Linked DNA regions of Homo sapiens: region 2 is linked to region 1. A link means that fine-mapping ties the variant in region 1 to the expression of a gene that starts in the linked region. Tissue or cell type: whole blood. Region 1 holds a variant in brackets; the other region holds the start of a gene. All regions are shown on one strand. Distances are from middle to middle.

Region 1 (2,764 bases):
TAGGAATTACTGCTTCCCCCACCCCAAAAGCCACTGACAGGACTTTTATTTATTACTGCATATTTTATTTAAGGTAAAACCTCCAAACAGTGTCAAAGAGTATATACCCCAAAGTAAGCCTGCTCCTGCCCTGTCTCCAGCCCCAGCCCTCTCACCAGAAGCCTCCACTGTCCGCAGCCCCTATGTGTGCTTCCAGAGAGGGTCTGCCCTCCACTTTCTAAGAAACAGAAATAGTAGCAGAGCACAGACGTGGTTACTCAGATACATTCTGGCGCCAGCTCCACGTCAGTATCTAACCAGCATCCTGGTTCTCTTCTCACAGCGGCAGAGGATTCTGCTGCGTTGTTTCTCTGTGTCAGACATTGCAGCCGCTTCCTGTCTCACTGCTGGTCTGGAATTTCAGAGAACCCCTGAGCTGGAGTTCTGAATTGAAACCTGGAGCCTGTCTGGTTCCACATTCACCTTTCACCACCGGCCGTTTCTTGAACACCCGCTGTGTGTCGAGGTATGCCTCCCTGTGCCAGGCTCTGGAAGTGGAGAGGGAGGGAGACAGAGCAGTGGCCCCGGCAGAGCTGGCGCTTGGTAGGAGGCCTGCCCGGCACCCAGACTGCCCTGAGGACGCCATGCCCGGCTCCCACCTTGGTCCACGCGGGGCCCCGCTCTGAAGGGCCATCTTCTGGCATCTTCCTTGGGACCCACATTCAGTCCCCACTTCCTGGGGCACCCTTGCTGAGAACTAATCAATACCCTGCTCTTTCTGGAAACTCCCACAGCGTATGTCGGTTGATCAACGCGCTCATGTAAGCAGCTGTTTGTGTTACTGCTCACTTAATGTATGTCTTCAAGTTTATTCAATTCCACAAACTTAAAGCATTGATTATGTGCCAGGCGATTTACACACATCATTTCATTTACATTCCTGCACCAACCCGATGAGGTAGGTCTTCTAGCTGCATTTTTACAAAAATTTCAAATGTCAGTCACAAGAAATCTGTTATAGTGGACCCCCATATATGCATCACCCAGCTTCCTTGATTATAAGCACGTGGCCTATTTTGTTTTACTTGTGCCCACACGTCTTGCCACTCTGCCTGAGATTATTTTCAACAAATCCCAGACATCATATTATTTCTTCTTCAAATATTTCAGCCTGTACTGGCAAATTATAAGAATGCTTTAAAAAGAACACATGACTTCACAACGATGATCACGTCTAAAAATTAATAATACTT[T/C]CGTAATACTTTCTCAATTATCAAATAGTGTTTATCTTTTCTCGTGTCTAATATATTTTTTAATTGTTTGGATAGTGATCCAAATAAAGCCCATTTTGATGGGCTGATATGTTAATTTAGTCTCTTTTACTGTATAGATTTCTCTTACCATCTTGCTTCTTTCCCTTGCAATTTTTATTTGTTAAAAAATTGGGTCTTTTGTCTTATAGTTTCCCAGAGTTTGGATTTTGCTGGTTTCATCTCTATAATAATACTTTTATTATTTTCCTTATGACTGTCTAGTTGTCTAAATATCACTTATTAAAAAGTCCACCCTTCCCTCTATTGGCTTCAAGTGCTGCCTTTATTAAAACTAAATTTCCAGACACAGTAGAGCTTACTATAGAATTAACCCGTTCATCTGACCCCCTTCTTTTCTGTAAATTAGTAGTTTTATCTTGAGGCTTAATCATATTCAGGTTTTTTGTTTGTTTGCAAGACTACTTCATAGGTGGTGATGTGTACTCCACCAGGAGATGCAGAACGGCTGCTGGTCGCATTTTGTGAAGGTCATAGCCATTTGATTATTGTTATTGCCTAGAGCCATTGTTTTATTATAGATATAAATAAAATTAATAATTCTATTATTTTTCTTTATTAGCTGGAATACATCTATAAAAAGATAATTCCTCTCTTTATTTATTTTTCTTACTGGATATACCTATAGGTCTTATAAGAAAGGCAGGAAAATGCTTTATTTTCTCTCATTATTTACCAGTTTTAAAAATGAGTTGGTTCCTCAGTGGGCTCCAAAGGTGATTAATTAGTTTTTTTTTTTTTTTTTTTCGGTGTTATACTGACATATTTGATGGATTTCAATCTATTGCAGTTAATGTTCTTAATAATATTCTTTTAAAAATTGATGGATCATGCTTTTATTCTATAACTGACTTACTTTAATATTTGAAAACTGTAAATGACATTTTGTCTATTTCCCAAGAGGGGAGCTAACAGGTCTCTATGGATTCACTTGGAAGTGGCTCACAAGTCTTTCTTTAAACTTTAAAACATCTCTAAACTTTTACATTCTTTACTATTAAGGCAAAAAGGCAGTTCAAGTTCAATCAGAATTTCATGTTCAATTGCTTCACATAGTCACAATATTAAAAGCTCTGAATGTGTGACTTAGGTCCAGCGGTTAGAAAGGTATTTTCAGCCTGGCGAGATGTGCTTTGCTGCTGGGCTGCAGCTCATTTGTGCTGTCACCATGGGATTGGCTACTGTAGCGCTCAGAGGACAGCTCTGGTTCCACAGACTCCTGTCCGCCCACGGACTCCTGTCCGCCCACGGGCTGCACACAGGCAATAGGTTTCTGTAACATTGAACTGAACTTTGACATCAACGAAGGTGGGAAAGACTGATTTGAGTGCTGCCCACTTGGAAAAGATACGTGAGAGGGAGAATCCCCGTTTGCATTAGGGTCCCCAGGTGATTTGGAGCGCTGATATTCCTTGCTATGCTGATCATTCCCATGAGAGCTGGAATGACTGGAG
Region 2 (2,764 bases), 79 kb before region 1:
AGTTGCCAGAGTTCTCACACTAGTTCTTTCTCATCTGTGTGGGCTGATGTTCCTTCAATTTTTGAAGTTGATGTGCTTTGGAGAGGTTTTCTGCTTTTATCTTCTTTGATGATCTTGGTTTGATTGTGGTATATGGTGGGTTTGGTTGACTTGCTTCATTTCTGGAAGATTTTAGGGGGCCCAGACTCAGCTCAGCACTCCTGGGCTGCGTGCTCTAACTCTGGGAGGGCTGGTGCTGGGCGCCTGGCTGTGCTATCTGAACCCTCAAGGTTAGGAATCTATTCTGCTGGAGGGGCTGAGTTGTTCCCAGTCTGCTGGCCACAGCACTGTGATGGAAGATGCTAGCCAAAGCACTTGGTCAGGGTGGTGTCAGTGAGATCTGTGCTTACTGATGTATGGCAGCAGCTGCAGCAGCATGGCGGGGTGCACACGTGTTAGCTGGGGAGGGGTTCCAGCAGAAATGGGGAGGCGGTGTTCCTGCATGTGCTCATGCCAGTGGTGGTGGTGGTGCATTGGTAGGGGGGAAAATGGGGGCTGGGGCACTGGCAGCCGTGGGGTTGCTGGTGTTGCACTTGTACTGGCGGTGGTGGCAGCTGGGGTGGGGTGCTGGTGGAGGTGAGGTTGCCAGCATTCATGAGCATGTTATAAAATTTTTAAATTTTTGTCTCAATTTTTTTTAAGTCACAAACATTTTTATTGGAAAGCAATGAGCTGCAGCAAAGTGACACTCAGTGCATGCAGCCAAATGGGTGAGGTGGGGGTACAGGTGGGTGCCAAGAGCTGACCCAAGACTAGAGCTCATGACCTCTGGGGCCTCTGGCTATAAGCCCTTTGGGCTGGAGTGTGCAGGCCCAGCAGAAATACAAAAATAAACTCTGTGGTCTAGCTGTCCCTGCCTGTGGTAGTTCGTTTGGGCAAGGTGGTTACTCTTTGCAGCAGGTCCTGTGCTGTCTAGTCCAGCCACAGCGTGGGCAGCAGAAGCCTATGGGGTTGAGTGGACACCTACAGGCTGGAGCCAAAGGGCCAGGCAGGTGTGGCCTTGGGCAGTGCTGAGACTCTGACAGCACCAGGGTCTGGCCTGCAGCTGGGGAGGCCTCAGGGCCTCTCAGGTGGGCAGGTCCAGGCATTGGTTGAAGCTGGATGAAGCTGGGGCCTGTGCTACTCCTCATCACATACAAATCACTGGGAACCTGTCCTCCTTGGTCTGGTCTCTTCGGCCCCACCCTCACTGCCTCCACCTCTGCTTCCTTTCTCTTCCTCCTCTTCCCCCAGTTCCAGGTCCATCTCGTTGCCTGCCTCTGAGGGTGTGCAGGTGGAGCTGCTAATGGAGCGGTGGCTGAAGAAAACAATTTGCTTGAGCCCTTTGTTGTAGAAGAAGTAGTTGAAGGACCAGAGGGTATCTTCTTCTCTGAAGGCATCTGGGTCCATGTCTGGGTTATAGCTGTGGGTGTCTCATTAAGCCAGGTGGATCTCCTCATCCACTGTGTTCCACAGCTGTGTTCTAGGACCTTGATGTCCCCCCACGCAGCTGAGAACAGACTGCGGTTGACTGCATTCACCACCCACCTGAGGCTGGGCTTCCGGCTGAACCCATGGCTGCGGGCTGTGCTGAGGTCATAGTCAGGCCTGAAAGGACTCGCTGAGCATGACAATCAAGTGGAAGAGGGTCTTGCAATTGCACTTGTCCCTGAGGGGGGCCCTTGTCCTTGCCACCTTGGTTCTTGCTCAGGCTGCTGGGGCTGAGGCCTGAGGTCTGGGATGGGGAGAGAGCCTTCAGTATGTGGGCCGCCCTCCTGTCAGAACAGTGTTTGTCGTCTCCTGCTATCTTACGTGAGTAGCTCTCAATCCTGCTGATAATGTGGGTATCTTTGCTCTCTACAGTTAGCTGTGAGTTGATGGCTTCAAAGCCCAGTTCTCCAATAGCTTCCTGTCTCAGGGAGGGAGCTCCATGCTTGAGAGGGGCCATTGCTGCCTGCCTGGTGGGGCTAAATCAGGCCTGGCTGGGTCATCGGCACCGGTGCATAGGCAGGGCAGGCTCCGCACAGTGTGGGCTCCTCAGCACCAGAGGGTGGCACCGTGGCATCCACCTGGGCCACACTGTATCTGGGGGAAGAAACTCCATGGCAATGTTTCATTATACCTGGCCCTGCTGGCTCATCCAGGTGGTCACTATGACACATCCTTACCACACTGCACATTGCCTGCTTTAGCCACCAACATGCCACCAACCACCACAGATCACCTTGGTCAGCCAGCAACCTCCACCTCCCCCACCAGTCAATGTCTATCAGTCAAAATTCCTAGAACTAAATAAGTATAAAAGAAACTTAACTACTTCAACTTAAAAATAATTTGCTTCTGTCTGCCTATGAAAATGTTAATATTTGTGAAATCTGAGTGAAGGGTATATGGCAATTCTTCAACTATTCTTTCAACTGCTCTGTAAGCCTGAAATTATGTTAAAATAAAAATTCAAAAACAAAAGCCAAAAACCTTGTACCCTTAAGGGTTACTTGAGTTAGTGGTTCACAGCAACAGATACTCAAATCTGGTTTGTGTTACTTCTGAAAATTAAGCTTCATATCTTTTTCTTCATGGCTCTTTCTGGTGTAAAGTACAACTTGAATCTCATGTTAGAAGGTCTATCCCAACAAAGCCCAGACCACTGGACTCTAGAGGCTTCACGCATGTGGCAGACTCCTGAATATTGTCAGGCTTTATCTCCCATTTTCTGGCATTGCAGGTACTTTACTAAGGCATTTAG

What was found. PIP is the estimated chance that this variant, and not a neighbour inherited with it, causes the effect.
Region 2: it holds the start of BFSP2-AS1, and the variant in region 1 is fine-mapped to the expression of BFSP2-AS1 in whole blood (TOPMed, PIP above 0.99).

What each region holds. Positions count from the first base shown.
Region 1 is chr3:133,410,474-133,413,237 of GRCh38, reverse strand. The region is part of intron 1 of BFSP2 (beaded filament structural protein 2); the gene reads right to left. Among named protein-coding and RNA genes, the nearest start is that of BFSP2, 12 kb to the right of the region's middle. The variant T/C (reference allele first, on the strand shown) is at 1,233.
Region 2 is chr3:133,489,968-133,492,731 of GRCh38, reverse strand. It overlaps BFSP2-AS1 (BFSP2 antisense RNA 1), which reads left to right and starts at 1,623. Exons shown (of 4, transcript NR_189064.1): 1 at 1,623-1,830. It also overlaps the pseudogene MAF1P1.